Regions from separate parts of the Homo sapiens genome. Here region 1 is reported to be linked to region 2. The links are microRNA targets in miRTarBase. Many come from high-throughput screens and were not tested one by one. Region 2 holds a microRNA gene; the other region holds the end of a gene's coding sequence. Distances are from middle to middle.

Region 1 (3,297 bases), 27 Mb from region 2:
TGGACGATAAGAGCAAAACTCCGTCTCAAAAAAAAAAAAAAAAAAGGCAACTGAGGTGAAAAGAGTCTTGGCTATACTACTGAAAAGGAGGGACACTAAAATTTGTTGGTCTCTTTGGGTTACAACTGGGCTGCATCAGTGTGCTTTAGAGTTACAGGAATATCCCGAAATTGAGAATCTGATGGGACTATACAATTTTAGAGCCAGTTCTACAGGTGAGACATAGACAACTTGTTCTGCTTGTCTGAAAACTTGTCTATAGAACTCTACAGAGAGGCTAAGAGGGAGTAAACTATCCTTTCTTTCTAGATCTTCATCTGCTGGTGGACGTGGCCTGCAAGCAGGAGCGCTTTCCAAAGGAGGAAGAATTAAAAGAGTGAGGAATGGATGACAAATGTGACATTGTGCACTAGCTGTAGCTGGAGGCAGACTAGCCTTGCACATGACAAACTGTTGGGATTTTTTCAGTTCTGTTAAGGAAAAAAAAGTATTTTTTGTTTCGTTAATTGAGAATTTTGTTAATTGAGAATTGGGAATTTGTATGTACTACAGTGGTTCAGTTCAGATTATCTGCCTTGACAAACTACTGAACATCTAGCAGCCACGTTTTTTGGCTGCCCAGATCCCTTTTAAATGAAAAGTTCTGACCTTCTGTTATAGTCAAGGAGCATCTAAAAACTGCTCCATCTATGGTACTAAGAATAATCTGTGTGTGTGCTGATTTGTTGTCTTGCCACTCAAACTGTAGTCAGCACAACTTTAGTGGGGAATTCAGTCTCTCTGATTCAAGTCACAGTGTGATCCTTTTAGAGGAGATTGTGTGAGAAACAAAGGCATGTGAGGTCACCAGCATCACAGGTCTAAATGCATCAGGAATTCCAGGGAAGAAACTCTGGAGAAGAGCTAATTTTCTAAGTGATTAACCAGGAAATTCTCTTACTTCCTAACCCAGCATTCTGTTTTAAGAGCAAGGCATCCGGACTTGGACCATCTATCACACTTAACAGCCCCTGATTCTTTTATATTAATGGAAGCATTCTTCTATTTTCATATCTTTCTTTAATTTTAATGATACATTATCATAAATGGTAAAAAGATTTTATTAATATATCACTTATTTAAATGTCTTTAAAGAAAGTATTTAACTTGTTTAATATAATTGTATTTATAAATGCTGATAGATTTAAAGGTTTTAAAGTTTTATATTTTTATTATTGCAGGATAGAAGGATAAAGGATGCATGTGTAGTATTTTTATTTTGAAAGGAAAATGTACAATGTGTGAACAAAAACATTAAGAGATTTAATATACTATTTTCTTATTTTAGATTTTTACATTCAATAAGTATAAATTCTCATCTATATAAGGTATTGTGTGCAAATTTGGGAAAAAACTGATTAGCAGCCATTTAGTAGAAGCTATGCCTCTGATTTTTAAAGAATGGTTTCAATCTGGTTTAAGCTTCTGAGAGAATTTTGGATAATGGGATAGATGGTAACATTTTTTTCTTATCCCTGTTACAGGATTCTAGATTTGTGCAGTAGGATTGTGGGACTGTGTTTTAGGAGAGAAGGATGTCTTGGATGTCCAGTTTCTGTGGTTAATCCCTTACTTGCTTATCCAGTGACAGCAAGAAACTTTCTGATTTAAAGTCTTTCAATTGACCAAAACTTTCTTATTGGATTCTGTTTCAGTTCTCCTATTAAGCACTGCAGAAACGAAAGGAAAGCCTAGGAATATGAAACTAATTAAAAAGGCACTTGGTGATATGACATAGTACTATGCTAGCCGTTGTGGATGTAACAGTTCATTTCTTATACTGCATTGTGCCTTCCCAATGATGTCAAACCCTAGAAATATTACAGAGATCTACTTTTCTGGAAAAGGGTGAGCTCTGTATTGATCTGCAGTGACTCTGTTTAGATATTAAAGTAGGTTCTGAAAAGCGACCTGTGTGGTCCCTCTGATTAGACTAGTTAATGTCTATGTGATGGGCATTTATTTATCTTTATTAGCAAGGTTTAAAAGAGCAAATTATCAAGACACCTATATCTTTTGGCCAGACTATATAATATTTTGTCAGAGTATGTGAAGAGGAGACCCAATTTCCAAATGAAGGAACTTTGCTTTTTCTCTGTCATGTTGAAGAGCTAATATACTGTGTAGATTTTCCCCTAAATATGGCTTTCTTAGCTTTATAGATGTTGAGATAATATCTTTTGAGGAACACATGTCAAGCAGGAACCTTGGCATAGATTTGGTTTCAGTTGTTTTAAGGCTTAATTAATGAAATGCCTTAATCAGCTTTCCAAACATTTTTATATATGAATACAGCAGACCAAGGAGCTGGATCTCCTGCTATCCTTACACGCCTTGTATCTATCAACTAAAGCTGTCATTAATGACTTGGGCAAAATGGCAAGAGGTATAATAAAGTCTTCCTGTGAATTAGCCAGTAGGGTCTGACACAACTAGTCAACTAACAAGGTTCCTGACTAGTACCTCAGTATTTCAGCACCTTAAGCACTGATAAATTTCAATCAGTCAACAATAAAGTGAGTGTTCCAACTAGACTTGTTGTCTTGCTTGTTCTTACTGTTTGGTGATTAATAGAAAATTCAATAATTATGACAGTTAATAGTATAATTCAAATGAGATTTACTTTATTTTTCAAATAATCTGAATTTTAAAAGTTTTTTTTCATTTGTACTTGAATAGCAATGGAATTTTTTAAATGCCGTTAGGGATAAGGACAATTCTTAGACATGTTTTACAGAAACCTACATTTTTGGAAAAGGATGAATGATCTTTGATAAATTTAATCAATCCAGAGGTGAAAGTAGATCCTGAAGGATGATCTATCTCATGTATAAGACTAGCTAGTAGATGTCATTGAGACTTAGGCATTTCATTACAATAGTGATGGCATCTTTATGACATCTCTAGGAAAATGTAGTAGTATATCAACCCTAGAGGGTAACTCCAAAACTTTGAAGCTGAAGAATAATTGCTCTTGCAATTCTGGTGATCTAAAACAGTGAACTAAGCTACATAGAGCTGTTTGGTTTGATCTTGAGTTTCTCCAAGTCTCCAGGTTCATGATGCATATCATCATCATTTCCAAATCTCAGAGTTTCCTCAAGAGAGGGCAACCACATTTGTAACTGTCTTCTTTCTGTCAATTAAGTGTGTGTATTAATTACTAGGGCTAGGTCTTTTCATTCCTTTGCACGTTTTAAGCAGGAATAGATGAGGCAAAGCCCATTTGTAGGTTATTTTTTAGTTTAACTATGTTAA
Region 2 (3,297 bases):
AACTGGCTGATTAGCGCGTGCTTGGAATGTGTAAATTCATTTTAACATTGGCCTAGGGGCCTGTGTGGTAGCTCACCCCTGTCATCCCAGCACTTTGGGAGGCCAAGGCAGGGGGATCACTTGAGGCCAGGAGTTCCAGACCAGCCTGGGCAACATAGCAAGACTGTGTCTCTACCAAAAAAAAAAAAAAAAAAAAAATTAGCCAAAGCAGGGTGACACTCACCTGTAGTCCCAGCTATTCAGGAGCTTGAGGTGGGAGGATCACTTCGGCCCAGGAGTCTGAGGCTGGAGTGAGCTATGATTGAGCCACTGCACTCCACTGCACAGAGTCAGACCTTGTCTCTGAAAAACAAAAACATTTGCCTAGGTAAAATGTATCGAGGAAGACAAATTTTAAAATTACTCATTCCAGGCCAGGTGCGGTGGCTCACACCTGTAATCCCAGTACTTTGGGAGGCTGAGGTGGGCGGATCATGAGGTCAGGAGTTCAAGACCAGCCTGGCCAATATGGTGAAACACCGTCTCTACTAAAAATACAAAAATTAGCCGGCTGTGGTGGCGCATGCCTGTAGTCCCAGCTACTCGGGAGGCTGAGGCAGAAGAATCACTTCAACCGGGAGGCGGAGGTTGCAGTGAGCCGAGATCGCGCCTCTGCACTCCAGCCTGGGTGACAGGGTGAGACTCTGTCTTAAAAAAAAAAAAAAAAAATTAGTCATTCCAAAGTCCAATGTCAGACATAGATTATCCGTTGTTTTGGATGTAATCCTCTTCCTGGAAAACTGGCACAACCCAATTACACATGAAATCCTTTCAACTCTGGTATTGGAGGTATAGGGAAGGACTTTGTTTTAGGAGACCCATAGTCTACCTCTATTGTTCTAGGAGTTAAACCACGTTGGTTTACATCCTGACTTTGCCACCTGTCAACTCAGACCTTGGGCAAATCAAAGGTCTGAGGGAGGAGTGCAGGCTCCCAGCGTTCCCACGGGGGTGGGGACGTGACGTATTCATCAGTTCATGAAGTTAATGATATGTATTGAAAAGGTTTGTTCAAGGATTTAAATAAGACGATGAATATATTGAATTAATAATGAATGCAAGGCCTTAAAGGTGTTTTGAGGGTGGTGAAACTTGAATCTCTCATCAACTGTGCAATAGTTATATTAACTTGGATGGCTATGAGTTTTGCAGAGGAAAGCTGGGCTTAAATCCCAATGCTAGACCTGGTGGCTAGACCTTGATTGCCACCGGGTCTAGCATTGGGATTTAAGCGACCTCTAAAAAAAAAAAATCACGGAATCTCTCTTTGGCCTTCCTTTTTTGTTTCTCAGCAGTCTACCAAGCTACGAAGAACCTGAAAATCGGAGGTCGTGTACCTTATTTTTTCTGAGAGCTTAAGCTGAGAGCACAGCCTCCCCAGGAGATTAGCGGCAGAGATCCGCGCGCTGGGAGAAAGGCTAGCCCCAGGGCGCCCTAACTTCCAACTCCGGGAGCAATCCAAACCCGGAGGCCGGCGGGGGAGGGGACAGCTGTAGGGGGCGGTGGGGATGGGAGTGGATGCTCCCGGGTCAGCTCTGGCACTCGCCAGCTGAGCCCAGCGCCAGTCTAGGTGAGCCCCACGGCGGTGAGGGACGCTCGCCAGACGGCCCAGAGGAGTTAGATGACGTCACCTCCAGGAGGACTCGCTTTTTCATTAATGAAACCGGCCGGCGCGGGCGCATGCGCGGCAGGCCGCCTTCCCTCTCGCTTCCCCCTCCCCTTTCCCAGCCGCGCTCTCAATCTCTAGCTCGCTCGCGCTCCCTCTCCCCGGGCCGTGGAAAGGATCCCACTTCCGGTGGGGTGTCATGGCGGCGTCTCGGACTGTGATGGCTGTGGGGAGACGGCGCTAGTGGGGAGAGCGACCAAGAGGCCCCCTCCCCTCCCCGGGTCCCCTTCCCCTATCCCCCTCCCCCCAGCCTCCTTGCCAACGCCCCCTTTCCCTCTCCCCCTCCCGCTCGGCGCTGACCCCCCATCCCCACCCCCGTGGGAACACTGGGAGCCTGCACTCCACAGACCCTCTCCTTGCCTCTTCCCTCACCTCAGCCTCCGCTCCCCGCCCTCTTCCCGGCCCAGGGCGCCGGCCCACCCTTCCCTCCGCCGCCCCCCGGCCGCGGGGAGGACATGGCCGCGCACAGGCCGGTGGAATGGGTCCAGGCCGTGGTCAGCCGCTTCGACGAGCAGGTAACCGGCCCGTGGCGGGCGGGAGGTGGGAGCGGAGTGGGGGTGGGGACAGAGTAGGTGAGGGGAGGTAGGAGCGGCCGCCTCCCCCGCGGCTGCCTCAGGCTCTGGAGGAAAGGAAGGGAAGGGAAGAGAAGGGAAGGGGGGATAAGTGGGGGTGGCCAAGGCGGGAGGTGAGGGGTAGGAGGGGACAGCTGGGAGCTTGGGCACCCTTTCCCTCCTAAGTCGGGGGGTGGGGCCTTGTCCCTGACCAGCCTCCGACCCTCCATCCCCTTTATCCCAGCCCTTCCGCTTGGAAATGGGGATGAGTGACCTGGGGGCGCCTTTAGGGGCGCGCCATCTGGATTTAATAATTACCCCCTTACTTTTGTTTTTGAGCAGAGGTGGGTAACGTTTAGGGGTTCTCTCTTCCTCTTCCCTCCGTGACCCTCCTAACTGGGGACGAGCGAACCCTAAGGCCTGTCTTATATACCCTCAATAGGAGAACGATAACATTCCGCCCCTCCCCCAGTTTCTTCAGCTTCCTCTCCTGGAGGGGGAAGAGCAGAAGAAAGCAAGGAAGGCACAGGTTTTCTTACTTTCTGCTCCATCGTCTCATCCTGCCCCGAGAGCTTCAAGTGCACACTCACTGCACATCTTTGTGATGCCCTACAACGTCGTCCCCCATATCCTGATGACACAGACTGCCTTTTTTTTTTATTGCCGTTTGCAGTGGAAACCGTGGTTCTGAAATATCTTCCCCTTCCTTGATAATTGCAGTCTCTTCCCCCCCCCCTTTTTTTTTTGCCAGCGGTCTGAGGATGTGATGCATTCTCGAGTGAGAATGTTGGGGAGTAAAGGGGAGAAGGGTGAAAGGAAAGTGAGAAACTGCTTCAGAGCCACCGACAACAGAGCAAAGCCAGCTGGGATGTGGTCCTGGAGCGGATCATTCTGCTAGTGTTTGTGGTTGTTTTTGACTCTCTCCTGGTTGACAAGAGAACTTTCATTGAGAATATTTGGGATGAAAAAAAAGTTTTGTAGCTTGAGGAGGTGACTTTTTATCGCCTGAGTTTCACACAATAAATCCTGGGGCTGATTAGA

The links. Region 2 holds the annotated microRNA hsa-miR-4733-5p (AAUCCCAAUGCUAGACCCGGUG, at 1,246-1,267, opposite strand). A microRNA usually pairs through its seed, bases 2 to 8, with sites in the 3' UTR of a target mRNA and lowers its output. Matches are read on the target gene's strand: a 7mer-m8 pairs with bases 2 to 8, a 7mer-A1 pairs with bases 2 to 7 and ends in A, and an 8mer does both.
Region 1: miRTarBase lists HSF5 as a target of hsa-miR-4733-5p. Seed matches in the 3' UTR shown: 7mer-m8 at 454-460 and 7mer-A1 at 1,484-1,490.

Annotation. Positions count from the first base shown.
Region 1 is chr17:58,419,443-58,422,739 of GRCh38, reverse strand. It overlaps HSF5 (heat shock transcription factor 5), which reads left to right. Exons shown (of 6, transcript NM_001080439.3): 6 at 310-2,573. The coding sequence ends at 380. Among named protein-coding and RNA genes, the nearest start is that of RNF43, 3.6 kb to the right of the region's middle.
Region 2 is chr17:31,093,150-31,096,446 of GRCh38, forward strand. It overlaps MIR4733 (microRNA 4733), which reads right to left and starts at 1,276; the gene lies at 1,201-1,276. It overlaps NF1 (neurofibromin 1), which reads left to right and starts at 1,828. Exons shown (of 58, transcript NM_001042492.3): 1 at 1,828-2,220. The coding sequence starts at 2,161. It overlaps MIR4733HG (MIR4733 host gene), which reads right to left and starts at 2,341. Exons shown (of 4, transcript NR_186435.1): 1 at 2,078-2,341; 2 at 224-342. RefSeq lists a promoter at 1,408-1,833, cis regulatory regions at 1,441-1,680, 1,907-2,217, an enhancer at 1,821-1,838 and silencers at 2,073-2,142, 2,183-2,232.